7 linked regions of the Homo sapiens genome follow. The protein of the gene in region 2 interacts with the protein of the main gene of each other region in a pairwise test. Each region holds a gene or a part of one and is shown on either strand. Other genes may lie near its edges.

Region 1 (3,968 bases), on a different chromosome or scaffold from region 2:
TTGTTCATTCCTGTCAAATAATTGATTTTTGCTTATTAACTTTGTATCCTGCAACTTGCTTTAATCACTTATTCATTCTAGGGATTTTTTTGTTTTTGTTTTTGTTTTTGTTTTTGGCCAAGTCTTGAGATTTTTCTACATAAATCAGGCTGTCTGTTAAAAATACAGTTTTATTTCTTCCATTATTTTATTTTATTTTTTACAGAGGTGAGGTCTCACTATGTTGCCCAGGCTGGTTTTGAACTCCTGAGCTCAAGTGATCCCCCTGCCTTGGCCTCCCAAAGTGCTGGGATTACATTGTGTGAGCCACTGTACCAGGCCTCATATTTCTTCCATTCTAACTTTATACCTTTTATTTCCTTTTCTTGTCCTGTTATGCTAGCTTAGACTTCCATTACAATGTTGCACAGGAGTGGTTAGAAGGGACATCTTGTCCATTTCTGATTTTACTTTCTAACCATGAAATATGATATTAGCTATTTTTTGGTAGATATTCTTTAGCAAGTTGAGGAAGTTTCCCTTTTATTCCTAGTTTGCTAAGAGTTTTTCATATGAATCAGTCTTGGGTTTTGTCAAATACTTTTTCTGCATTATTGGTATGATCATATAATTTTTTCTTTAGCCTGTTGATATGATGACTTACATTAACCAATTTTTGAATGATAAGCCAGCCTTGCATATGTGTAATATGCCTCTCTTGGTTATGGTATGTAATTTTTTCTGTATTGTTGGATTATATTTGCTAATATTTTCTTGAGGATTTTGTATCTACTTTAATGAGTGATATTGATCTGTAGTTATCTTTTCTGGTAATGTCTTTATGCGGTTTTGGCAGTAGGATAATATTGGGCTTGTAGAATAAGTTAGAATGTGTTCCCTCTGTCTACTTCTACTTTCTGGAAGAAATTGTAAAAAACTGGCATTATTTATTCCTTAAATGTTTAGTAGGATTAACCAGTGAAACCATCCGAACCTGGTGCTTTCCTTTTTGGAAGGTGATTTTTTTCTTCTTCTTTTTTTTTTTTTTTACTAGTTATTGACTCAGTGTCTCCTTCCTTCCTTCCTTCCTTTCTTTCTTTCTTTCTTTCTTTCTTTCTTTCTTTCTTTCTTTCTTTCTTTCTTTCTTTCTTTCTTTCTTTCTTTCCTTCCTTCCTTCTTTCCTTCTTTCTCTCTCTTTCTTTCTTTCTTTCTTTCTTCCTTTCTTCCTTTCTTCATTTCTTCATTTCCTTCCTTTCTTTCTCCCCTCCCCTCCCCTCCGCTCCCCTCCCCTCCCCTCCCTTCCCTTCCCTTCCCTTCCCTTCTCTTCCCTTTCTTCCTGCAACGTCTTGCTTTGCTGTCCAGGCTGGAGTGCAGTGGTGCGATCATGGCTCCCTGCAGCCTTGACCTCCTGGGCACTAGCGATACTCCCACCTCGGCCTCTGGAATAGCTGGGACCACAGGCATGCACCACCATGCCCTGCTAATTTAATTTTTTTTTTTTTTTTAAGAGATGGAGTCTATGTTGCCCAGACTCGTCTTGAACTCCCTCGGCTCAAGTGATCCTCCCACCTTGGTCTCCCAAAGTGCTGGGATTACAGGCATGAGCCACCATGCCTGGCCCACTAAAGCACTTCTTTTTATGTTTCTCGCACAGCAGGTCTATTGGTGAAAGGTTTGTCTGAGAAAGTCTTTATTTATACTTCACCTTTGAAGGAAAATTTTTCTGGATATAAGATTCCATGTTGGTGTTTTTCTCTTTTTTAAGTTTCAATGCTTTAAATATTTCACTTCACTCTCTCCTTGCTTGCATTGTTTCTGACAAGAAGTCCAGTGTTGTTCTTGTTCTTCTATATGTAAGGTGTGTTTTTTTTCCTGTGACTTTTTTCTGTCTTTCTTTTCCCTCCCTCCCTCCCTCCCTCCCTCCCTCCCTCCCTCCCTCCCTTCCTTCCTTCCTTCCTTCCTTCCTCTTTCTCTCTTTTCTTTTCTTTTCTTTCTTTCTTCTTTTGAGATGGGGTCCCACTCTGTTTCCCAGGTTGGAGTGCAGTGGTATGATCACGGCTCATTGCAGCTTCACCCTAGTGGGCTCAAGCCCAAGTGATCCTCCCACCTCCGCCTTCCAAGTAGCTGGGGCCACACGCGGGTGCCACTAAGCATGGCTAATTTTTGTATTTTTTGTAGAGATGGTGTTTCATTATGTTGCCCAGGCTGGCCTCGAACTCCTGAGCTCAAGTGATCCACCTGCCTTGGTCTCTGAAAGTGCTGGGATTATAGGAGTGAGCTACCATGCTTGGCCATCTTTGTCTTTCTAAAGTTGAAATATGATATGGCTAGACGTGGATAGGCATATTTGGATATTTATCATGCCTGGTATTCTCTAAGCTTCCTGGGTCTTTAGTTTGGTGTCTATCATTAATTTTGGAAAATTCTCAGCCATTATTTATTCAAATTATTTCTTCTGCTCCTTTCTCTTTTCTTCTTCTTGTATTCCCATTATATATCTGTTACACCTTTTGCAGTATCCCACAGTTCTTGGCTATTCTGGGGTTTTTTTTAAATTCTTTTTTCTCCTTGTATTTCAGTTTGGGAAGTTTCTTTTTTAAAAATTGTTTGTGATAGGGTCTTGCTCTGTATCCCAGGCTGGAGTGCAATGGCGGGATCTTGGCTCAATGCAACCTCTGCTTCCCAGGTTCAAGCAATTCTTGTGCCTCAGTCTCCTGAGTAGCTGGGACTACAGGTGTGCACAACCATGCTGGCTAATTTTTGTTTTTTAAGTAGAGACGGGGTTTTGCCATGTTGGACAGGGTGGTCGCCAACTCCTGACCTCAAGCAATCTGCCCACCTTGGCCTCCCAAAGTGCTTGGATTATAGGTGTGAGCCACCACACCGTGCCCAGTTTGGGAAGTTTCTATTAACATCTTCAAGCTCACTGATTCTTTCCTTGTCAGTTTCTTTTTTTTTTTGAGACGGAGTTTTGCTCTTGTTGCCCAGTCTGGAGTGCAGTGGCGTGATCTCAGGTCACTGCAACCTCCGCCTCCTGGGTTCAAGTGATTATCCTGCCTCAGCCTCCCAAGTAGCTGGGATTACAGGCATGCGCCACCACCCCTGGCTAATTTTGTATTTTTAGTAGAAATGGGGTTTCTCCATATTGGTCAGGCTGGTCTCGAACTCCTGACCTCAGGTGATCCACCCACCTCGGCCTCCCAAAGTGCTGGGATTATAGGTATGAGCCATTGCGTTCAGCCTCCTTGTCAGTTTCAAGTCTACTGTTGAACCCACTGAAGGCATTCTTCATTTCTTTAATGGTGTTTTGAGCTCTAGCATTCACTTTTGGTTCGTTCTTAGCATTTCCATCACTCTGCTTATATTATCCATCTGTTTGTGCATGTTATCTGCTCTTTCTGTTAGTGCTCTTAACATTTTAATTATAGTTTTTTAAAATTCCCTATATGATAATTCTAAAATCTGTGTCATACCTGAGTCTGGGTCTGATGTTTGCTTTGTTTTTATGTATTTTTTAGCCTTGTAATTTTTTAGTTGAAAGAGAGATATTATGTATCAGGTAATAGGCTTTTATTATGCGGCCTTATGTTAATTTGGCTAGGAGCTGGGTTGTGTTTAATGCTTATTGTAGCTATAGGTGCCAGAGACTTCAGTTTCTCTAGTGTTTTTTTCTCTCCTTTCCTATTGTCTTTGGGTTTCCTTATGAACTCCTTAAATAGGTTCTGTGCCTTGTAGCTCTCTCACTTATAATCTTCTGTTATTATACTGGAGCCCTGTTGATGTGGTAGTAAAGTGTTGGAGGAGAATCTGTTTATACTTTTATGATTAAATCTTATTCTTTTAGTGGCCTGAGCCTCTGGACTGTGGCCTTCAGAAGTGTTTCTTAGCCTTTTCTCTTTCTCTCTTCTTAAGTAATACAGAAAGGCTATAGACAGCTGGAGTTGGCTAATTTTCTTCTCTCAGGTCAGATAAGGCTCTGACATCTTCCC
Region 2 (4,587 bases):
GAAAATCCTTCCATGTTCTGTATGTAAAAGATAAACAGAAACCAGCATAATTCCTGCCTCTGCACCCTCATTTTAAAACTTTCTGAGGACTTGGTAGAAGCAGTGAAATTGTCGTAAGTGAAGTGTGAAGAACTCACCCCATCCCACCAAACCAGGGTCTTTTGGAAAAGAGTATTCTGGATACATAGCTGCCCTAAGGAGACGCCAAAGCAGACATACCTAGGAAAACCCAAACGTTCCTTGGATCCTGAGACAGCTGGTAAGCACCCAGGCCGGCTAGACTGCCAAAGAGCAGCCCTGCAGCCAGGGACGGCACGCTGCCTAGAGGGAAGCAAACACAGCTTGCATTGTAATGTCAGGCACTTATTTCACTAACGGAATCCCCCAGACCGCTGCCCTACAAAGGAGGACAGCACAGAGAACTCTCAACACAGCTCATAGCCAAGGTGGACTCAAGCAGGAAGACGTTACAGAGAGTGTGCTATCTTCTCAGAGAAGTCAGGGTCTTCCCACCCCATTTTTCTCTCCTCTAATAGGCAGGGCACTTCCATCTAAGGAAAGGAAAGAAGGCCATCTTCCCTCCTTAGATGGAACTGTGGCTAGGCCTTCTTTCTAATCAGGCCTGATCAACCATGAAGGACTGGAATTGTGTACAGGCAGGACCTCCAGCAAATCACAAAAGGAGAAGGAGATAAGGCCAGTCAATTAAAAAAATACAAAGACCTGGAGAAGAAGAATTCTGGTGCAGGGGTTGGGGTGGGAATGCAGGCAAGGACTAGGGGGCAAACACAAGCACAGCCACTGACACACCCCTGCCTGGCCTAACGAGGAGAGTTCAAAATACCAGTCTGTGTAGGCCAGAGGTTTCCTCCTACTTGAGCCCAGAGATGGCACTTGGGGGTCGTGGCTGATGAATGGCAGTCAACGATAATAACAAACTACAACCGCCCCTGCCTATCTGTAGATAAAGAGGCAAAAACAAGTAATTCCAAAAGAGGCCTGGCTCAGCTTCACCAGATAACCAAAGGGCAAGGGCAGGAGCTGCAAGACTGACAAGGAAGCCTGCACTCCAGCTTGGGGACCCACAGCAAACCTGACTCAAATGAGATTGCTTCTCAGGGACACGGGCATTCACATTTCACTGGGACAACGTGAAGATGTTAAGAGGCTAAGTAACAACAAAACCCTACCTGCTTTTACATAGCCAATGATCCCACCAGAAGCAACCAGTGCTGCGTAGCCAAAGCCAAACCAATGCAAAGGCACTCTGAAAACACAAGAGGGAGAAGTCAGTGCTAACCTGGCTTTGAAAACAAACCATACTGTCATAGGATGGGACTAAAAGGTAATCATTCCCCACAGGTCCTATCACTGAAAATAAGGACCACAGAGGTTGGATGACTTTCTGAGAGTCACACAACTCAGCAAAGCCAGAGCTGGGACTCAAACCCAAGTTTCTGGCCCACAGGTCCAGTGATCCTCCCATCCCCCATGCCATCCCAGGCAGTCTACTCTTAAGGTTCTTTTCAGCTAAGGAAAGGAACTCTGGTTTCCAGAAGCTCCTGGCTACTCCATACCCATTTACTGCACTCACACTGAGCCAGTGTCCTGCATTTTTCTCTTCTCTGTCCAGACAGGAGACTACCCCAGGCCTGCACCTGCAGAAAACAAGCTGGATCAGAGGTAGTTAAAAGCACAGCTCTCCAGCAGTCAGAAAGAAGTGTGTCCAACCTGCAAGCTACGCAACCTAAGTCTCAGTATTCTTCACTGTACCATGAGGATAACACTGGTACCGATTTCCTGGGGCTGTAGTGAGCATTCAATGGATGTCACATGTAAAGGTGCTTAGCACCTAGTAAACCCTGAACAGATGCTGACCATTGTCATGAAAACCTCAGTTTTAATCACATAGGCCCACGGGAAACTCAGCAAGATCCACTGACCAGCTCTAAAATCAGGGAATGTGTTAGTCATTTCATCAGCTACCCATGTTATCACTAAATTCAAAAGCAAATACTCCCGTGCCCTTAATCCAACTACTTTAATGTCTCTTTTGAGGGGAGGTAGGGGTGTTGCTTTTCATCCCTGCTGCAACAGCCAATTTCAAAGCTCAACTTTTTTAGAAACTTCTGCGTCCAACTCACAGTTCTTGTTAGGAGGGCAGTAGTAGGAGAGGATAAAATATACGGAAACAGTGGTCATATTCACATGTGACACTACACCCTTGGAAAAACAGCTTCTATTTTCTTACAGAAAGTATCCTGTGTCCAGTGAGCCAAAAGATGAAAGCAATGCATACCCCGTTTATTCTGTTTAAAGAATTAGGCCAAGCGCAGTGGCTGACGCCTGTCATCCCAGTACTTTAGGAGGCCGAGGCGGGCGGATCACCTGGGGTTAGGAGTTCAAGACCAGCCTGGCCAACATAGTGAAACCCATTGTCTACTAAAAAATATAAAAAAATTAATCGCGCATGGTGATATGCGACTGTAAATCCCAGCTACTTGGGAGGCTGAAGTGGGAGGATGGCTTGAGCCCAGGAGGCAGAGGCTGCAATGAGACATATTCAGGCAACTGCACTCAAGCATGGGCGACAGAGCAAGTCCCTCCCTCAAGGACAAAAAAAAAAAAAAAAAGAATTAAGTTTCCATAAAACAGGGAAGGGCAGCGGGCTTGGGATCTTGCCCACAGTTCTTAACTCGAGACGGCACCGAGTAAGGGAGGCTTTTAAAGAGATGGAGCAAGAAAATCACCAAGAAACGAGGCAACACTATGCTACATGGGTAAGCCTTTGCCTCAGGAGCCCAGGGGCTCCGCGCATCCACAACTTCTTTTAAAAGCAGAAAATACCCAACGAGAAAAGCACCGACCACACGGCCTGAAGGCCCGCTGAATCGGGGGGACGAAAAGCAGACGGCCGTGAAACTCCTAAATAATCCCTAAAAGTTAAAAGTGGCAGAAAATAAGAATAATCCCCAAATACTCGCACCGGTCTCACGAAGGCCCCGGCTGTCTACAAGGGCGCGCAAGCCGCAGGAATGACTGCGAGGTGTCGCCGGAAATGCAGCGGCGGGCGCTCTCCGTCCCGGTGGCGGGGCGAGGAGAGGGGAGCGGCTCTGTTGTGCCTGCGCAGTGTACCGGGAGAGGGGCGGTCAGAGAATGGGGACGGTGCGGGCGGGGCTTGAGCCGCCAAGTAGCAGCATGCGCCCTGCATTCAGCGGGTGGAGAGTGGGGCGGGGCATCGCGGCGAGCTCCTGAGTCCAGGGAACGCGGCGGGGAATCTCTGTGCTTCCCCTGTCCGCAGCGCCTGCAGGGCCGACCAGTATCAGTCCCAGGTCCAATCCTGAGTGGCCAAAAGCAGGAGACCCGGAGTTGGACCTGGGACTTGCACAAGCCGGACCACGTGAGCTCGGCCACGCCAGAGGTGAGGCCACCGCTGCGGGACCAGGGAATCTGAGGCTGGATTTTGAAGGACCCCATTAATAGAGGAACAAGTTACAGGGTATAAACCAGATGCAGGCCATCAGGGAGGAGTGTCACTCAAGCCCGATCTTGTCTACACCAGGAAGGGCCTGCCTGGAAGAAAATACGGGGGCTGCAGAATAATGTGGCTCAAAGCCAAATATCCGTTTGTTTTAGGGAGTGAGGCTGCTTGAGAAGCATCTTAAAGGGGGATGGGGAGTAAGTTAAACCTGATTTTTACCCAGCTCTGTGGACCCAAAATATCCACAGCATATTATCTCCATTCCCACTTGGAGTCACTCCTATTCCGTTTCCTGCACCACCATTCTCTTAGTTGCTCTACACTAAAATTTGCTGTCATCGTTGACTTCTCCCTCTCCATCCCCTACAAGTATCAACATACACAAATCTGACCAATATAATTGTCAGTGAATAAAGCGAATTCCAGCCAAGTTTTTTTTTTTTTTATGTGGAGTCTCACTCTATTGCCCAGGCTGGAGTGCAGCGTATGATCTTGTCTCACCACTACCTCTGACTCCCATGTTCAACTGATTCTCCTGCCTCAGCTGCCTGAGTAGCTGGGATTATAGGCCTGTACCACCACCCCTGGCTGCCAGGCTAATTTTTGTTATTTTTAGTGGAGATAGTGAGAGATCACAACGTGCCAGTGTGTTCAAAATTGATGGCTTCTTGGTCTGACTTGAGAAAGCTGCAGACCCTCGCGATGAGTGTTAGTTCTTAAAAGCAGTGTCTCTAGAGTTTTTCTTCCGATGTTTAGAAGTATTCAGGGAGTTTTTCTGCTGGTGGGTTTGCTGTCTCACTGGCTCAACGAGCAAAGCTACAGACCTCTGTGGTGGATGTTAAAGCTCTTAAGGCAGTGTGTCTGGAATTGTTTGTTCTTCCCGGTGGGATCGTGGTCTCCCTAGCTTTGGACTGGCTCAAGGAGCAAAGCTACAGACTTCTATAACGAATGTTAAAGCTCTTAAGGCAGTGCGTCTGGAATATGTTTGTTCTTTCCGGTGGGATCGTGGTCTTCGTAGCTTTGGGAGCAAAACTGCAAATCTTCGCAGTGAGCGTTACCACTTGTAAAGACAACACAGGACCTAAGCACCGAGCAACAGCAATATT
Region 3 (3,968 bases), on a different chromosome or scaffold from region 2:
TTTCAGGGTTTTCAGCCCTTTCAACATTGCTTTAATCATCCTGGTTTGTCTTTTTTCACAAGGGAATGCTGTGTTAATGACTCAGTTTTCTATCTTACTCTGTTACACTAGAAATGAATCAGAATGCCTCATTAGGCCAGGGTAAACCACAACATCAGAATGTTTATATAACAATTTATTAAAGCGGAAATGCTTGATTGTGGTTTTTAATAAACTGTTGAGTGTTTAAGAAAGAGTCTTGTGGTTGTCCTTGTGACTTTTGTAATTGTTGTTGGACCATATGCTATTAGACTTAGAGTTGTCTTTATTAATTAACTACTTAAAAGAATGCCATCAGTAGCTGATAACCAGAGGTTCCAGGTTTCCATTAATAAGGTCATTAAGGGAGATAACAGAGATTTTATTTAAGATTAAACTAAGCCTTGATTTGTAGCACATTTTATTCTCTGTAACATAAGTTTGCCAGAGGAACATTTTTATGCCTTTGTAGCCTTTTATATGAATAATTCATATTATAAGGTAGAAGTACTAGGTACCTCAGTTGAAATTTGAGGCCGGGCACGGTGGCTCACGCCTGTAATCTCAGCATTTTGGGAGGCCAAGGCAGGTGGATCACGAGGTCAGGAGTTCAAGACCATCCTGGCTAACACGGTGAAACTTCATCTGTACTAAAAATACAAAAAATTAGCTGGGCGTGGTGGTGGGCGCCTATAGTCCCAGCTACTCAGGAGGCTGAAGCAGGAGAATGGCGTGAACCTGGGAGGCGGATCTTGCAGTGAGCCAAGATTGCGCCACTGCACTCCAGCCTGGGCAACAGAGCGAGACTCCGTCTCAAAAAAAAAAAAGAAAGAAAAGTAATTTGATTTTAATTTTGTCCTAGTGGAAACTGGAGAAAGACGCTTTTTCATATTCAGTATTATATAAGAAATGTCATAGTTTTAGCCTTCTAAGAACCACAACAAAGAAGGTGGGATTACTAAAGGAAAAAACATCCTATAGTCTATAAGTATCCTAAATGAAATTTTAGTAAATTTTTAAATCTTTAGTAAGTTACAGATGACAGTTTCTCATGGTACTAATATTGATGTAGTTGAATGTAAGTAGATGTTGTGTGCCACTATTTTTGTTTTTATTTTTAGGTTTTTGAGACGGAGTATCACTCTTATTGCCCAGGCTGGAGTGCAGTGGTGCGATTTTGGCTCACTGCAACCTCCGCCTCCCAGATTCAAGCGATCCTCCTGCCTCAGCCTCCTGAGTAGCCCAACTATAGGTGCCCACCACCACACCTGGCTAATTTTTTGTATTTTTAATAGAGATGGGGTTTCACCATGTTGGCCAGGCTGGTCTCCAACTCTTGACCTCAGGTGATCCGCCTGCCTCAGCCTCCCAAAGTTCTGGGATTACAGGTGTGAGCCACCACGCCTGGCCATGTGCTGCTATTTTCAAAAGCCGAAGCTCTTGCGTTGAGTCAAAGGGAAACAAAGACTTTGGTGACTAGAACCGTAGTGTGTCTTGTTCATGCGTAAGATTAAGGTATTATTTTCTAAACTTGCATTTGTGGTTATTGAGAAATTACAGATCGGTAAAATAATATTATGGTCCAGATTTGAAGTGAAAGATAATCCCTAGGACAGTCAGTTTTTATGGGAGATTTCCTTGTTTTTTCTTTTTTTAATAAAAATGATATCTTAGTTCTATAGTATTTGGTACAGTGCTATGTCCACAAAAGGTTCTTGGATAGTGAATAGGCCAGAACTTGCTTTAAAATTGGCTTCTGTAGAGCAGTGTTTGGATAGACACCTCTGAGAAGACTAGCACTTTGAGCCAATTTGAGAGAGTTGCTGCTGCTGCTGCTGCTACTGCTGCTACTGCTGCTACTGCTGCTACTGCTGCTACTGCTACTACTGCTACTGTTCACCACTGGGATTACAATGTTGCCATATGCTGTGCAGACCAGTTTATAAAATCCAGAGTGGCTGCATGTAGAACATTTTTTTAAATCACTATTGACCATCTAGGTTTCATAGACACCCTCATACATGCAAACATACACCCACAGACGAATATTTTTAAATCACTTTATGAGTAATTTTTAAAAGTAAGATTAAAAGGGATTGTGTAAAACAACTTTAAAATTTTAATAAGAATGTAAGCATGGTAACCATCTTTGTATCAAGTAATGTTTGACTCACAAACATAAAAAGCTGAGAGAGTATAGTTACATCCTTGTAGCAACACAAGATAGTCTAGATACTTGTAAAATATTGGGTGTATGTTCTCCCTGCTGAAATGATTAACTCTATGATAAAATCATTTTTCCTTTCTATGCTTAGAAATATATTTTTTACTGACTGATTCTTAAGTTTGAGAAAATTCACCTAGGATATGTTTTGCTGAAGACTCATCTGAGATTTCACATATGATCGATTTTATCATCTAGACTCTAGAATGTGTCTCTGCATTTGTATTAGTTTCCTAAGACTACCATAAGAAGTAATCCAAACTGGGTGACTTAAAACAACAGAAATTACTTCTCTTTCATTTCTGGAGGCCACATATCCAAAATCAAGGTGTCAGATTTGTGATTTCTTCAGAGACTCTAGGTATCCATTTCTTGCCTCTTCCAGCTTCTGGTGGCTGTGGGCATCCCTTGGCTTGTGGCCACGCCATGCCATTCTGTGCCTCCATAGTTATGTTGCTTTTTCTTCTCTCTCTAAACTTCCTCTGCCTTTCTCTTAAAAAGATGCATGTGATTACACTTAGGGTCCAGCTGGATAATCTGGAATAAACTCCTCAAAACCTTTATCTTAATCACATCTTTTTCCATATAAGATAATTTTCACTCATTTGTCATAGAAAGTAATATTCACAGGTCCCAGGAATTAGAAAGTGAATATCTTTGGGAGGCCATTTTTTAGCCTACCACACCATTCATCTTTTGATTTCTTTAACAGTGGCAAGATGTCTTCCTCTGTCAGTTGTCTCCACTTTGCAAATACTGGATAGGCAGAAAATGAAAACTAAAAACAGGTTACAAAAATGGTGTTTTCAGTCTTCTTTTATACTTTCTGGAGGTGACATGATACTTTGTACAGCACAGTAAAGAAGCTCAACAATGATAAGTTATTGCATCATCCTTTCAGATCATTTTCTTATTTTAATTTCTTTTTATTACAAAAGGGAATAATTGATAAGTAATGATGAAATAATTCCTAGGATGATGAAATGGCAAAATGTTTCAAGATACAGGAAATATAAAAATACTGCAATAATCCTATAATATATCTTAGATTTATGAAAGGGTTCTTTGGACCTCTCTGGTAATTGCAAAATATAATTTATTTTATTCTGTTTTTTTAAATAAGTAAATTTTCTCATTATTTGAAAGACTTAAGAAAAGATAAAAATTATGAAATGCTAATTTATACAAATAGTGAGAACTGCTCAGAAAAGGAACTGAAAAACTAAAAGTGGACCCGTGGAACCCAGTGGTATACTGAGGGTTAATGGTTGAGTTTTTAAACATTTCAGGGGATACCAAAACAAAGAGACAATTTCTAGAATCCTTTAAAAATAACATTCATTAATTCATTCCATCCCCCTTTAAAATAACAAAACAGTTCTATAATTACATTTCCAGTTCACTCTGTCTTACTGTGTTATGTATAATGCTCTTATTATTTTGTTCCAGAATGTCATCATACACTAATTTGGTATTACCCACCTGACCATAGGCTGGTAGTGCAGTTTGTGAAACTAATCAATATTTTAAACATTAAATCACTCTGTGGGAGAATATATATTCGTATTTCTGGCCAGAAGGACTTTAAATAAATAAACAAAATACAAAATCTTCAGTGATTTATCCAGGGTGATAGATCAATGGAAACCAAGGGACCTGTTCGCAAATGTTAATTTCAATTCAGTATTCATGAATCCAGACTGTAAATCTCTACTGATTGACTTTG
Region 4 (3,968 bases), on a different chromosome or scaffold from region 2:
TAGAGATGGGGTTTCGCCATGTTGGCCAGGCTGTTCTCAAACTCCTGCCGTCAGGTGATCCTCTTGTCTCGGCCTCCCAAAGTGCTGGGATTACAGGCGTGAGCCACGGCGCCTGGCTGACACAAGACTATATTTATGGAGGAAATATATATTTGTGTGTGTGTGTGTATTCAGAGTGCCAGGTACATAGTAGTTGTGCAATAAATATTAGCTACTTTTCCTCTTTTCTTTCTAAATTTTGATTTTGAGTCTTACCAACAAAACTAAAAAAACAAGCAAAAACTAAATATTAGATTTTTAGAAGCTTATAGGTACAAAAGTAATAAAATCAATTTTCAGTAGAAACTCAAATAGGTGAAAATCAAGTACGGTGTGAAACAATATCTAAGTAATTACATTTCTTCATAATTGAATACCAACAAAAAATCAGTTTTAAGCAAAACTCAGTGGATCGTCATTGATAGGAGTTTTATCTGCTGTTAATGCTGGATAAAATCCAAGAGCGGTTAGCACAACATCTTCATTTGACACACGAGGAAGTGGAGATTTAGCTCCCTGCAGATGACCTTGAGCACGTTTCTCATGCCTTCACTCCTGCTTCATGCAGTGCACTTGCAGTTCTCCATGTGTTCACCCCACACAGGCATTTCAGAATCCATTGGTTGGAACCGGTTTGTGCGTTCTGCAAATGAGATGACTGATGACACCCATCCTCTTGCAGTTGCCTGGGCTTGTCATCTTAGCCTTGCCCTGTGACTACCCTCATTCTCGCCATGGCCACTCAATCCACTGCCAAGCCCTGTAGCCCTTCCTCTTGCTGTGTTGCTCACAGTTCTTGCTTCCTGTTGGTCTCCACTAACACTTCCTCAGGTCAGGCCCTCACAATTTCTTTCTTGGCTAATTGTATTTTCACAACAATGAAAGTGCTGTTCTCTGCACCTTTAGTCTCTCCATTACGGCTTTGCAGTAAGTGGATAAGGCAGGCTCTGATACCAGATTGCCTATATTCAAATCCTGACCTTGGGCCTCTTCTCTGTAACTGGAAATCATAACATTACCCGCATGGTACTGTTAGGAGAAAACGAACATGTTATACATACAAAGGCTTCTCAACACCTACTAAATTGGTAGAAACGACTAAGCCAGTCTACTTTACTTCTCCAGGTTCTTTTATTCCACTAGTCCCCTTAAGAACAATGGTTTTTAGTCAAAATGGGCTGCTCATAGTTCTCTGAGCATATCTCACACTCTTCCAGCTTTCTTTTGCCCATGTTGTTCCCACAGTCTGCAGTGCCAACTGACCTTATTTTGTCTCCTCCAGTCATGATGTTGTTCTTCCTTATAACCATCCTAGAAAGCAGTTGGCTGATATGTATGAAGAGCCTTAAAAATTATCCTGCCTCTGGGCCGAGTTTGGCTGATCATGGCTGGGTTCTTTTACATATTTTGGGGTTGGTTAAATGTAGACTGGTCTTGGGTGGTGATATGGTTTGGCTCTGTGTCCCCACCCAATTCTCATCTCGAATTGTAATTCCCGTGTGTCTAGGGAGGGGCCTGGAATCCCCAAGTGTCAAGGGAGGGAAGTGATCAGGTCATGGGGTTGATTTCCCCCATGCTGTTCTAATGATAGTGAGTGATGGTTTTATAAGTGTTTGGAAGTTCCTCCTTTGTTCTTCTTCTCTCTCTTGCTGCCTTGTGAAGAAGGTCCTTGCTTCCCCTTCACCTTCTGCCATGTTTGTAAGTTTCCTGAGACCTCCCCAACCATGTGGAACTGTGAGTCAATCAAATCCCTTTCCTTTATAAATTACGCAGGCTTGGGTATTTCTTTACAGCAGTGTGAAAATGGACTAATGCAGGTGGCTTCAACCTGGACAACTGGGCTCTCTTACTACATGATCTCTCATTTTCTAGTAGACTAGCCTAGACCTGATTACATGGCAGCAGCAGGGTTCTCAGAAAGGCAAAGCAGAAAAGGTCTTTTGAAGTGTTGGCTTTAAACCAGATCCTCTTCCTTCCACCACATTCCATTGGCCAATGCAGACTGCAAGGCCAGTCCAGCTTCATGGATTAGGAAAGTCGATTTTGCCTCTTGATGGGCTGAACTTCCAAGTCACATTACAGCGGACATGGATAAGGGAGGGGTGAAGAATAGGGGGCATTTTTTTCCCCAATATATCCTACTAGAGATGGACAGAATTCCTACCTTTGAGGGTAGAACATGAAAATTAAGATCTGGCAGTACGGTGTAGTAGTTAAGGGCTCTGGAAACAGCAAGCAGACCCATCACTTACTGACTGGATCATCTCGGCAGATTATGCACATTTTCTATGCTTCAGTTTCCTTACTTCTATTTTTTAATTTTTATTTTGATTTTTTTTGAGACGGAGTCTCGCTCTGTCACCCAGGCTGGAGTGCAGTGGCGTGATCTCGGCTCACTGCAAGCTCTGCCTCCCAGGTTCACACCATTCTCCTGCCTCAGCCTCCCGAGTAGCTGGGACTACAGGCGCCTGCCACCACACCTGGCTGATTTTTTGTATTTTTAGTAGAGATGGGGTTTCGCCATGTTAGCCAGGATGGTCTTGATCTCCTGACCTCATGATCCGCCCACCTCAGCCTCCCAAAGTGCTGGGATTACCGGTGTGAGCCACCGAGCCCGGCCAGTTTCCTCACTTCTAAAATGAGAAGCATTCCTACATCGTGAGCTGTTGAGAGGATTGAATGAGTTAATATTTCTAAAGTGCTTAGAATCTCACTTGGCATAAAATGTGATATGAACTATTATTATTATTATATAAGGCAGGCAAAAGAACATCGTGTCCTGGGTCTGTGTTTTAGTCCCTGCTCAAGGAGCTGCATGCCTAACCCTAACCCTGTATATAATGATATATCATAATATATATGTGTCATGTTTTATCTATTCATCCATCAACGGACAATTGAATTATTTCCACTTTTTGGCAATTGTGAATAATACTGTTGAGTCTCAGCTTTCATTTCCCTTGAGTGTATGCTTAGGAGTGGATCTGAGGTTAAATATTAAGTATTTTGTGACTATAGGAAAAGCAAAGCAAAATATGAAGTCCAAATGTCCCCCTTCCTCTACCGTAGTTTCTCCTGAAACTACTGCCCAGAAATGTTTCTCTTGTCTGTCCCCATAATCCGAATTATGTAACTCTTCCTTATCATCTGTTGGAAAGCATTGCAATAGCTGGGCTACTTGTCTGCCTCACCTACTATATCTGTAAGCTCCTGGAAGGCTTGCTCATCTTTGCTTGCACAGTACCAGCCAGGTAGTGGTAGGCACTCGGTAAACATGAGTGAATGAGTGAATGACAGTTTCCGATTGCCTGTGTGTATTACAAAAACAACCCTCAAAAGAGGTCCAGGCCAGGCGTGGTGGCTCACACCTGTAATCCCAGCACTTTGGGAGGCTGAGATGGGCAGATCACTTGAGGTCAGGAGTTCGAGACCAGCCTGGCCAACATGGCAAAACCCCATCTCTACTAAAAATACAAAATTAGCCAGGTGTGGTGATGCATGCCTGTAATGCCAGCTACTCAGGAGACTGAGGCAGGAGAAATGCTTGGACCCAGGAGGCAGAGGTTGCTGTGAGCCGAGATCACACCACTGCACTCCAGCCTGGGCAAGTGACAGAGCGAGACTCCATCTCAAAAAAAAAAAGAAAGAAAGAAAGAAAGAAAGAAAGAAAGAAAGAAAGAAAGAAAGAAAGAAAGAAAGAAAGAAAGAAAGAAAGAAAGAAAGAAAGAAAAGAGGTGTCCATTTATTGATGCAACTCAGGACAGCTCCCACTGTCTTGTCTTTTCTTTTCTTTTCTTTTCTTTTCTTTTTTTTTTTTTTGAGACAGGGTCTTAGACTCTGTCATCAGACTGGAGTGCAGTGGTACAATCATGGCTCACTGAAGTCTTGGCCTTCTGGGGTCAAGTGATCCTCTCACCTCAGCCTTCTGA
Region 5 (3,968 bases), on a different chromosome or scaffold from region 2:
AAATTATTAATAATCAGGGAAATAGAATTAACATCGCAAGATGGCACTACACGCCCACTCAAACAGCTAAAATTAAAAAGACTGACAATACAAAATGTTGGCAAGGATGTGGAGCAACTGTAACTTATTCATCACTGATGGAATGCAACATAGTACAAGAATTTGGAAAACAGTTTAGCAGTTTTTCAAAGTTGAAAATAACTTGTATATAATCCAGCAATTTCACTCCTAAAGATATGAAACCATATGTCCTCACAAAGACTTGAACCTGAATATTCACAGTGGCTTTAATCCTAACAGCTTCAAACAAAAAGCAATCAACGAATGAAGATGAAGGAAAAACAAATTATGGTGTATCCAAACTGAAATATTACCCAGCAATAAAACTGAATGAACAACTGATATATGCAACAACAGAAGAATCTCAAAAACATTACACTGAACAAAAGAAGACAGATAAGAGTATATACTCTATGATTCCATTTACATGAAACTCTAGGAAAGACAAATCTATTCTCTGGCTATAGAAAGGAGATCATGGTTGCCTAGAGTTGAGGGGTAGGGACTGAGTGAGAAAGAGGCACAAAGGAACCTTGCAGAGTAACAAAAATGGTCTCTATTTGGACTGTGGTGGTGGTTATATGGGTGTTCACTTTTGTCAAAACTCATCAAGTACACACTTAAAAATGTATACATTTTATGTGTGTAAAACCTCAATAATTAGTTGAATTACTAAAAAATACTGTTTGCAATTCAGACTATAATAATGAATAGAAATTTCAAAAGTATAAAGTTGCATTTTCCAACTCCTTTTCTAAATAACATTTAGAAAAACTCAAAAGTTTTCATAGAAACATATAAAACAAAGATTTAACAGGCAACCTTCTAAGTAAAGGTGAAATACCTGCTACAACAATCCTCTCCGGAACTTGCATTATCACACTAGCATTTGGAACTCCTTCTTGGAATCCTTGTTCCAGGTCAGCGTTTGGCGGTGCTACTTTTAACTTTTCTGGGACCCTCATTCGCTGACTAATGCCTTCAGTATATTCCATTTCGTACTGAATTCGACTAATTTCTGCCATCTCAGCAGCAGTGGGAGAAGGAAATGCTGCCCTGCTCACCCTGTGGGAGAAAAATTTAAAGACAGGGCTGACTGTTAAAATGTCAGTCTCCTCTACGCAGTGAAGTTAGAAGACAATACCTTATAGAAAGAGCGAAAGGAAACTTCTCATTTGCAAGTACTGAACACATACAAAGCAAAAATAAAAGATGAAAGAAAATGTCTTCCTCAACAAAATGCCTTCTTAATTATCAGCTGAAATTGTACCTTGAGGATATTGCTTAGGAGCAAATTTTTTAAATTATTATAGAATTACAACACAAATGTGTACACACACATACACACATACTCTCTGCGTAAACATGCATGCTGCTTGTAACTAAAAAAATGCCTGCAATAAAATTTAAACTTAAAATTTCCTCATCAATTTGAGGGAAAGCTGCTTGGACTTTAAAAATATAAAATTAAAAATTACTGTCATGCATGAAAAAATAAAACCTTTAAATGACAAATGCATCTGTTATTCAAAACCTTTAAATGACAGATGCATAACATTAACTCTGAATTTACTAAAAAAGAAGATGCAACTCCCTGAAAATCACATCATACAAACTAAAACTTCTCCTAATGACTGAGATGCAATGAATACCAAATTTAGAATTTGTAATAATAAATCCTCATGTTTGTATTCATTTTTGGAGGGACTGAAAGTTTTACACTATTAATCTGTATTTAATATCATATTTACATGTGTTTTTTTTTTTAATGCAGTAGAAAGAATGTTGCCGCCAATACAAAAGCTGATAAAAATGTAAAAGAGCATGGTTAGCCTACGGCAGTAAGCTTTAAAGCCATTGTCTCTCAAACCTATAATACCAGCTCAACTGAATAAAATTTCACTGACCTTCCTAGTGATGTGTCACTGCTTGTTCCTTTACTCATTTAAATACAGTAAATACAGGTCTATAATAGCTATTAAAATACTGCTACCCTGCAGTTCAGTTTACTTTACACAACAATTCCCCTACACATTTGAACTTTTTTTGGAGGTGTACATAACAACACGGACACTGCTTTTCCAGCTGTAAAAAAGAAAGAATAAAAATCAGTATTTCAACAATTCATTTCATAAGAAAACTATGAATAAAAGTAAATATCTACGTAAAATGACTTTTGGATTTGAACATGGCTTAGGGCTTGATTTGAGAAACCAATTGTTAAATCTATCCTAAGAAGAGTTTTTCTATACCTCAAAAATCATAAAGACAGTTGTAAGCACAGTCACTGTCTTATGATTTTGCAAACAGGATACAGAGAAGCTGTATCAAATGTATATACAAATGTGAAGTCAGATTCGAAGAAAACAATACTGCCATAAAACTCCTCTAATCATTATACTCCAAAGGGGAAAAATCCTTTTTTAAGACTAAGCCCAAATGAATAAATCATGAAGGGAATACAAAGGGTAAAAAGTAAATGTAACTGAGGCAGCCTACATATTTGACGTCTAATGGTTTCTTTAAATAAAAATAAACTTCAAAATTTAGGGTAAACTTCAAATGGAAATTACACTAAATTTTCAGCAAAGACACTATATATAAATTAAAGACATAAAAAGTTAAAGACAGTATACATGACTTTACCATGGCTAAGGTATTTCCTAAACTCCATGCTGGAGATATAGCCCCACCCTAAGCCCCCGCCTCACTGAGATGCCTAGGAGAGCTCTTAGAGGTTGCTCAGGACGCTCAGCCCCAGCAACTGGTTTGACTATGACTGCTAACTCACATCTTTTATTCTTTATCAAAAAATCTCTGGGGACATAGATCTTTAAGGATTTGGCATGCAGACGATTTAAAGACTAAGAAAGTAAGCCAAAAGGGACCATTTTTACTCACAAATGTGTAACAACTACTGCTTGCTATTTGGCACTATCTGCTTCTGTGCTTCATATTAAATCCTTTAACTTGCTTCAATGTGCATGTGCTGGATTGAGAGCCACTTTTGTCCCTGGGGAAGAAAAACAGGGGCTAATTGAGAAACTAGATGAAACCACTATTAGGGATTCATTACTGGAAATTCTCCAAATAGTAACAGTCACAAAGATGCACAACCTGACATCAAGAGACCAGTAAGAAAATAAAGAAAGAAAAAAATTAAGCTTACCACCAATCTTAGTTCCACAGATGGGGTCCTACAACTATTCATTAGTTAAGGCAATATAAAAGACTAGCTCTGTCATTGTTTCTGATTTGTATTTAGAAAAATGTGGCAGATGAAAAATACGTAAGTTTAAATGAATCTAATACTTACGTATATATATGCATATAGGTACACATATATGTTAAAGAAGAACAAATGAATTGGTTTTTTTTTTTTTTTTTTTTTTTTTGTCACCCGGGCTAGATTGCAATGGAGCTTCCTGAATAGCTGGGACTACAGGCATATGCCACCACACCCAGCTAATTTTTGTATTTTTTGTTGAGACAGGGTCTTATTATGTTGTTCAGGCTGATCTCAAACTCCTAGGCTCAAGAAATCCTCTGGCCTTCGTCTCCTAAAGTGCTGGGACTACAGGTGTGAGCCACCGTGCCCGGCCTGTTTAAATTTTCATTCACTTACGATGTTAAAATTTTGAACTAGTAATGCATGTACTCGGTACAAAGTACGCAAGCTATACAGAGAAAAGGAAGTGTCCCACTTTCAATCCTATCCTTAACCACCCAGGTTCCCACAGGCAACCTTTATAATCAATTTTTGTGCATCATTCCAGATGAGATGCTCTTCTAATACTTGCGTGTATCTCAAGCATAGCAAAAGCTCATATTCAGAACTAACACTGAAAAAAGCTACCTCAAAAAGATTATAGCCTTTGGCCATTATAAATTGAAGTTTTATAATAATA
Region 6 (3,968 bases), on a different chromosome or scaffold from region 2:
TTCTTTTTTTATTTTTTATTTTATTTTATTATTATTATACTTTAAGTTTTAGGGTACATGTGCACAATGTGCAGGTTAGTTACATATGTATACATGTGCCATGCTGGTGTGCTGCACATAAGTCAGCCACTTCTTTGGTATATTGATTTGCTTCATTTTAAGAAAGAAAAATGAACTACAGTTTCCTTAATGGTATGCTTCTGGTTTATAGATCGTTCTTATATGCGATTAACAGAAAAAGAAGATGAATCACTGCCAATAGATGTAAGTTGGTCATTTATATTCCGTTACATGTATGTTTAAAATCAGCCACATAGCTTGTAATAATTTTTTTTTTACTGGTTTTTCGTAAAATTTTTCAGACATGAAATAAAATCTGATCTCCACTTTTCTTTTCTTTTCTTTTCTCTTTTGAGACGGAGTCTCACTCTGTCACCCAGGCTGGAGTGCAGTGGCCTGATCTCAGCTCACTGCAAGCTCCGCCTCCCAGGTTCACACCATTCTCCTGCCACAGCCTCCCGAGTAGCTGGGACTACAGGTGCCCACCACCATGCCCGGCTAATTTTTTGTATTTTTAGTAGAGACAGGGTTTCACCGTGTTAGCCACGATGGTCTCGATCTCCTGACCTCATGATCCGCCTGCCTTGGCCTCCCAAAGTGCTGGGATTACAGGAGTGAGCCACCGCGCCTGGCCTGTGATCTCCACTTTTCATCACTCATAAAGCTCAAAGATTTGGAAAGGTTTCTCTATTTGGTTTCTAGAGCTGTAGTCGAAATAGTCTTTCTCGAAGATGCTCTGTCCATAGTATGGGATGGACTTAAAAAGTTGATTATTTAGCTTTATTTCTTAGAAAAGTTCATTTTTATGTAAGGGAAATAAAGCCAACAGTACATTGTTTAGGGACATACATAGGTGGTAAAATGAAAGTGGTTTTAGTTTTTTTTCTTTTTTTTGAGACAATGTTTTGCTCTTGTTGCCCAGGCTGGAATGCAGTGACGCGATCTGGGCTCGTTGCAACCTCTGCCTCCCAGGTTCAAGCAATTATCCTTCCTCAGCCTCCCAAGTAGCTGGGATTATAGGCGCCCACCACCACGCCCAGCTAATTTTTTTGTGTTTTTAGTAGAGACAGGGTTTCCCTGTGTTGGCCAGGCTAGTCTCGAACTCCTGACCTCAGGTGATCCATCTGCCTCAGCCTCCCAAAGTGCTGGGATTACAGGTGTGAGCCACAGCGCCCGACCAGGAAAGTGTTTTTTAAAACTAAAATGATAAGTATTCCAGCATCACTCACAATTTTTATCTTTACTAGACTTGAAATTACACAAGTAGTAAGTTCTTTGTAACAGAGTCAAACAGTAAAAACTAAAACTGACCCTACACAATTATAAAAACACCAACAACAGAAGAACTGGCCCCGTTCCTTGGCAGTTCCACTTCTACTCCCAACAGTTTGGAGTATAGCAGTAGTTCAGTCTTCTTCCTATACACAAACAGCATTATGTATGTGTAGTTTTACCTAATCCAAACACGTATTATTTTTTCTTTAAAAAGTTATACATGTGTATATATGTATAGTTTTATAATTAACTTTTTTATTACTTAACAACTTCAGTCTTACTTTCATGACAGCTCATATAGATTCTTGTTAAAAGTGCCTGTGACTGTGTTATATAAAACAAGTCTTCTGGCCAGGCATGGTGGCTCACGCCTGTAATCCCAGCACTTTGGAAGGCCAAGGCAGGCAGATCATGAGGTCAGGAGATCAAGACCATCCTGGCTAACACGGTGAAACCCCGTCTCTACTAAAAACACAAAAAATTAGCCGGGCATGGTGGTGGGCGCCTTAATCCCAGATACTCGGGAGGCCAAGGCAGGAGAATCACTTGAACCCGAGAGGCAAAGGTTGCAGTGAGCCGAGATCATGCACTCGAGATCTGCACTCCAACCTGGGTGACAGAGCGAGACTCCATCTCAAAAACAAAAACCAAGTGTTCTTGGTAGACTGGTGGTGGGAATGTAAATTGGTATCGTATATGATGTTAGATTTTAATTTAAACAGGAAAATAGATTGTGGCTAATTTTGACTTTGTCTGTAATTAAATATATGATTGATGAGGCTGTTAACTCCTATCACCTTTTTTTTGTGGTAGATACACACACACACACACACACACACACATACACATATTTATGTCTATTTTAAAGAACTTTTTTCTATAATCTGAACATGCCCATAATCCCATGTTGGTTAAAATAAAACATTCTGCGTTTTTGCTCGCTCAACCTCTTTGGAAAGCAGTTGATATTACTCAATCAAATTGAACATGTGCATACTCTACACTCAGTGTTTCCATGTGTGAACTGGGCGACATGCATATGAATATTCATGTTGATTGTGAAGGTAACAGGAAACAACCCACATATCCAATAACAACAGCAGAATGGATAAATTGTGGTATTTTCATATCATGAAATACAAAGCACAGTGAAAACTGGCCGAGCACGGTGGCTCATGCCTGTAATCCCAGCACTTTGGGAGGCTGAGGCAGGCGGATCACCTGAGGTCAGAATTTGAAACCAGCCTGGCCAACATGGTGAAACCCCATCTCTACTAAAAATACAAAAATCGGTTGGGTGCAGTGGCGGGCACCTGTAATCCTAGCTACTTGGGGGCTGAGGCACGAGAATCACTTGAACCTGGGAGGCTGAGGTTGCAGTGAGCCGAGATTGCACCACTGCACTCCAGCCTGGGTGACAGAGCAAGACTCCATCTCAAAAAAAGAAAACACACACACACACACACACACACACACACACACACACAATGACATAATGTTGAGCGAGGAAAGCTAGACACAAAAGAATACATTTGAGTCCATTTAAATAAAGTTCAGTATGGGCAAAAGTAAGGCATATATGTTTTAGAGATTCATATATATTTAATAGCTGGTAAAATTATCAAGAAAAACAAGAAACTGAGTAATATATAATTCAGGACCATAGTTAACTTTGAGAGGGAAGGTAAAGGATATCATCTGAGATTGACATGTGGAACTTGAAAGGTACTAGGAATGATCTATTTCTTAAGCTGGGTGGTGGGTACATGGTCTTTTAATTGCTTTATGCTGTGTACATATGCTTTCTGCACTCTATGATATATAACAATAATACTGGCTGGGTGTGGTGGCTCACGCCTGTAATCCCAGCACTTTGGGAGGCCGTGGCGGGCGGATCACCTGAGGTCAGGAGTTCGAGACCAGCCTGACCAACATGGAGAAACCCCGTCTCTACTAAAAATACAAAATTAGCCTGGCGTGGTGGCGCATGCCTGTAATCTACTCAGGAGGCTGAAACAGGAGAATTGCTTGAACCCGGGAGGTGGAGGTTGCAGTGAGCCGAGATTGCACCATTGCACTCCAGCCTGGATAACAAGAGGGAAACTTCGTCTCAAAAACAAAAAGCAAACAACAACAACAACAACAAAAAAAAAACAAAAACAATAATACCTTAAAAATTCTTAGTTGCTCTTGGAAGCAGGTAATATTTGATCATTGAGTTCTGAGTGGCTCAGTACCATTCAGTACTCAGTGATTTTGCTTATTTGAACACTAGATTTATTTATTGAAGCATCAGAGGTATTTTTGCAGCCAATCCACAGAATTTATAGATTGTATTGTGTCTGAATCCCAGTCATTTCAAGTGAGCATTGTCTCCCTGATGGTGGCCCTGAGAGGACTACCTGTTAGAGGCAATGAAGAGGTAGAGAGAAAATTGTAAATATTTATAATAATGTTTGTGTTATTTAGTATTATCAATCTTTATACTCACAGATAGTTCTTCAGACACTTCTGGCCTTTGCAGTTACCTGTTACGGTATAGTTCATATTGCAGGAGAGTTTAAAGACATGGATGCCACTTCAGAACTGAAAAATAAGTAAGTCTTTCTCTTTTCATAGGCATTGCATTTCAT
Region 7 (3,968 bases), on a different chromosome or scaffold from region 2:
ATAAATAAATAAATAAATTATTGCCTAAACAAACACTATTTTGTCAGGCTTCTGCTGCAAGCCCAAGGCAGAAAACATTGCAGTTATTAGAAGTCAGCCCAATTATGAATCTGCATTTGAAGCTGGAAGAAAGGGGAAAAAGTGTGTTCTGATTACAGCATCAAGACATTCTAGCCTGCAAAACAGTAACTTTATTAACGTCTTGCAGCGGAGTACGTTAATAATCGTAACCATGCATTAAAACTCTCATTTCATGTCAAAAAGAGAGTAATCAGTTTTCCTCATGATTTATGTTTTACTGAATTTCATACAGTTCGTCCCTCTGAAAATGTTTTTAGGAACATTCCCTCTCCAAGGAGTGCATCTTAAGATACCCAGGTTGCTTACGACAGGTCATCTTTGGTCATTTTAAATCAATCTGTCTGAACCTATGTGTGCACCTTTGTAATATTCATAGTTCAAATTGGATGCAAATATAAATAAAGCACTGATACATACCACTCTTCTCACTCTCTTATCTGATATGAGTAAAGATCTAAAACTGAAGGTCTGAGCTCATTGCTGAAACTGCTGATTAATCTTGATGCTAAAAGCTCACCAAGAGACACCACCAGAATCCATTCTATGCAAGCCTTCACCTCTCCTTTACTATTTACTGAATATCTATTATGCACTCTATAATAAGGTAAACTAAAGTACTTGAAAAATAGCTATTGTCTTTGATATTGTTTAGCTGATAGGCTAAAATGGTCATCTTAAAACAATTATTGAAAAATATCAGCCATCTAGAATTAAGGGCTATAACTGGAAGGAGGATTCACATGGGCTGGGATAGTGGAGGAAAGCTTCAAAAGGACAACTGATGTCCAGGAATGCATAAGAGATGAGTAGGCAACTGAAAGGAAGAGAGTGGCTGGCCCGGTGGCTCACGCCTGTAATCCCAGCACTTTGAGAGGCACAGGTGGTCAGATCATGAGGTCAGGAGTTCGAGACCAGCTTGACCAACATGGTGAAACCCTGTCTCTACTAAAAATACAAAAAAACTAGCCAGGTGTGGTGGCACATGCCTGTAATCCCAGCTACTCAGGAGGCTGAGGCAGGAGAATTGCTTGAACTCAGGAGGTGGAGGTTACAGTGAGCTGAGATCAAGCCACTGCACTCCAGCCTGGGCAACAGAGTGAGACCCAATCTAAAAAAAAAAAAAAAAAAAAAAAAAAAAAGGAAGACAGTATGTGAATGTAAAGAGGCAGAAATAATAACATTCTGCAGAGAAAGTCATATTGAAAATCACTTTGGTATTGTTGACTAATGCAAGATTTACTTCCTTGTTTTGGGGGTAGGTGGGTGAAAGATGGAATGAGCAAAGGGGCAGGGAAGATCTGGCTGAAAGAAGGACAAGGATAAGAAGAGAGCTCATGTGGGCCTTTTAACTACCCTCACAAAGAAACCTTCATGCTAGTAATTGCATCTGCTCGTAAAATTGTGTCTCTCTATAAAAGGAATTAAATGCAAAGAAGATTAACAATATATACCTGTTGCCTAGTTACAAACCACCATGACAGCTTCAAAGGATACAAAAGACTTTGAGACTCTTGTTTATTTTACTGGGATACTATTCTCCAACTCAGGCAGAATAATTGTTTTTATCACCTTGGTCATATGCATGTATATGCATGTAATTTTCAATATTAATATGACTTGCTTTGGGCCCCAAGAGAGTTGGGGTTCCATGAAACTCACTTCCTACAGTGCTTAGTACCAAGACACTAATTTAGTCAACTTTTATTTTTTTTCATTTTTTTAAAAAATTTATTTTTCCGAGACAGAGTCTCCTGTTGCCCAGGCTGGAGTGCAGTGGCACAATCATGGTTTACTGCAATCTCCGCCTTCCGGGTTCAAGGGATTCTCCTGCGAGTGCCTGGTATTACAGGTGCAGGCCACTATGCCTGCTAATTTTCGTATCTTTAGTAGAGCTGAGGTTTCACCATGTTGGCCAGGCTGGTCTCGAATGCCTGACCTCAAGTGATCTGCCTGCTGTGGCCTCCCAAAGTGCTGGAATTACAGGCGTGAGACACCACACCCGGCCTAGTCAACTCGCGAGATGATGTTGCTTGGGGGTCAAGGTTCTCCTTATGTTATCTCAAGTCAGTCTATTTAAGCTAAAACCAAATACTGAAATTGATACACCAATGCAGTTTGTACCCTGTTCTCAAATTGTTCTATTTCAAGTTTGTTCATAGTTTATATGGATTTGTTTCAAAAAGGCCCAAGGCTTATGAAGTTAGTATAGTTATCTTCTCACTGATACAATTTCAATTTAGAAACTGCTCCTCAGAAGAAAGCTGAGAGAGTATTTCCTCTGGGAAATTGTTGCTGTTGCTATTTCATATAAATTCTGTTCTCTAAGACTTTAACATTTGAAGTCTATACATTTTCAGTGACAGGGGCTTTGTTTGTATTACATTATTTTATTCTTATGTCATCCTTATAAAGAAGATATTATCAGCATATTCATTTGGCCAGGTGCAGTGGCTCATGCCTGTAATCCCAGCACTTTGGGAGGCCAAGGCAGGAGGACTGCTTGAGGCCAGGCATTCAAAACCTTTGTTGCCTGGGCAGCAAAGTGAGACTGTCTCTACTAAATAAATAAATAGGCTGGGCTTGGTGGCTCACGCCTGTAATCCCAGCACTTTGGGAGGCTGAGGCGGGCGGATCACCAGGTCAGGAGATCGAGACCATCCTGGCTAACAGGGTGAAACCCCGTCTCTACTAAAAAAAAAAAAAAAAAAAAAAAAAAAAAAAAAAAAAAAAAAAAAATAAGCTGGGCATGGTTGCAGGCGCCTGTAGTCCCAGCAACTAGGGAGGCTGAGGCAGGAGAATGGCATGAACCCAGAAGGCGGAGCTTGCAGTGAGCCAAGATTGTGCCACTGCACTCCAGCCTGGGCAACAGAGCGAGACTCTGTCTCAAAAAAATATAATAAAAATAAATAAATAAATAAATAAGACATTCTAAAGACATTAAAAGGATAATAAGGGAATGTTATGTACAAATTTATGCCAAAGAAATTCTACAACTTAGATGAAATGGACAAATTCCTTGAAAGACACACATTACCAAGAATTAATAAGTAAATTGAATAGCCATGTAGCTATTAAAGAAATTAAATTTGTAATTAAAAACTTTCCCATAAAGAAAATTAGAGGCCCAGGAATCTACCAAAAAAAAAAAAGCTTATCGAGTTTAGCAAAAAGAGGTTTAGCAATTTAGCAAGACTGCAAAATATGAGATCAAATTACAAAAATCCAATATATACTGACAACAAACAATGGGAAATATAAAATTTTTTAAAATGCCACTTGCATTAGCGTCAAAAACCGTCAAATAGGGCTGGGCATGATGGCTCATGCCTGTAATCCCAGCACTTTGGGAGGCTGAGGCAGGTGGATCACATGAGGTCAGGAGTTCGAGACCAGCCTGGCCAACATGGTGAAACCCTGTCTCTACTACAAACACAAAAAGTTAGTTGGGCGAGGGGGCAGGTGCCTGTAATCCCAGCTACTTGGGAGGCTGAGGCAGGAGAATCACTTGAAGCCAGGAGGCAGAAGCTGCAGTGAGCCAAGATCACGCCACTGCACTCCAGCCTGGGCAACAAGGGTGAAACTCTGTCTCAAAAAAAAAAAAAAAAAAAAAAAAAAGAACCCGTGAAATACTTTGGAATAAATCTGACAAAATATGTGCAAGACTTAAACACCAAAAACTACAAAATACAATTTAAAGATTTAAAGATTTTGAAGAAGATTTTAAAAATAGATATTATGTTCTTGGATTAGAAAACTCAATATTGTTGATATGTCAATACTCCCCAATTGCTCTATAGATTCAGTGCAATCCCAACCAAACTTCCAGCAGACTTTTAAAAATGGAGTCTTTATTATTAACTACTTCACTATATTGCATTCTTTTTAAA

What was found.
Region 1: the proteins of TMEM14C (region 2) and NCR3LG1 interact in binary tests that used the Homo sapiens proteins (3 or more experiments, as listed by UniProt).
Region 3: the proteins of TMEM14C (region 2) and GORAB interact in binary tests that used the Homo sapiens proteins (3 or more experiments, as listed by UniProt).
Region 4: the proteins of TMEM14C (region 2) and SLC10A6 interact in binary tests that used the Homo sapiens proteins (3 or more experiments, as listed by UniProt).
Region 5: the proteins of TMEM14C (region 2) and MFF interact in binary tests that used the Homo sapiens proteins (3 or more experiments, as listed by UniProt).
Region 6: the proteins of TMEM14C (region 2) and MMGT1 interact in binary tests that used the Homo sapiens proteins (3 or more experiments, as listed by UniProt).
Region 7: the proteins of TMEM14C (region 2) and HSD17B13 interact in binary tests that used the Homo sapiens proteins (3 or more experiments, as listed by UniProt).

Annotation. Positions count from the first base shown.
Region 1 is NC_000011.10:17,361,625-17,365,592, forward strand, and holds part of NCR3LG1 (natural cytotoxicity triggering receptor 3 ligand 1 precursor), read left to right. Parts: intron 1-3,968. UniProt on the Homo sapiens protein: Triggers NCR3-dependent natural killer cell activation.
Region 2 is NC_000006.12:10,721,641-10,726,227, reverse strand, and holds the start of TMEM14C (transmembrane protein 14C), read right to left. Parts: upstream 3,159-4,587; 5' UTR 2,987-3,158; intron 1,673-2,986; exon of another isoform or gene 1,659-1,672; 5' UTR 1,615-1,658; coding exon 1,595-1,614; intron 1,268-1,594; coding exon 1,191-1,267; intron 322-1,190; coding exon 220-321; intron 1-219. UniProt on the Homo sapiens protein: Required for normal heme biosynthesis.
Region 3 is NC_000001.11:170,545,557-170,549,524, forward strand, and holds part of GORAB (RAB6-interacting golgin), read left to right. Parts: exon of another isoform or gene 1-235; intron 236-3,968.
Region 4 is NC_000004.12:86,842,588-86,846,555, reverse strand, and holds part of SLC10A6 (sodium-dependent organic anion transporter), read left to right. Parts: intron 1-3,968. UniProt on the Homo sapiens protein: Transports sulfoconjugated steroid hormones from the extracellular compartment into the cytosol in a sodium-dependent manner without hydrolysis.
Region 5 is NC_000002.12:227,327,783-227,331,750, reverse strand, and holds part of MFF (mitochondrial fission factor), read right to left. Parts: intron 3,074-3,968; 5' UTR 2,962-3,073; intron 2,146-2,961; exon of another isoform or gene 2,006-2,145; coding exon of another isoform or gene 1,968-2,005; intron 1,126-1,967; coding exon of another isoform or gene 1,086-1,125; coding exon 905-1,085; intron 1-904. UniProt on the Homo sapiens protein: Plays a role in mitochondrial and peroxisomal fission. Promotes the recruitment and association of the fission mediator dynamin-related protein 1 (DNM1L) to the mitochondrial surface.
Region 6 is NC_000023.11:135,967,354-135,971,321, reverse strand, and holds part of MMGT1 (ER membrane protein complex subunit 5), read left to right. Parts: intron 1-211; coding exon 212-264; intron 265-3,828; coding exon 3,829-3,932; intron 3,933-3,968. UniProt on the Homo sapiens protein: Part of the endoplasmic reticulum membrane protein complex (EMC) that enables the energy-independent insertion into endoplasmic reticulum membranes of newly synthesized membrane proteins.
Region 7 is NC_000004.12:87,305,715-87,309,682, forward strand, and holds part of HSD17B13 (17-beta-hydroxysteroid dehydrogenase 13 isoform A precursor), read right to left. Parts: intron 1-3,968. UniProt on the Homo sapiens protein: Plays a pivotal role in hepatic lipid metabolism. In vitro, it catalyzes the oxidation of a variety of lipid substrates, including 17beta-estradiol, retinol, retinal, and leukotriene B4.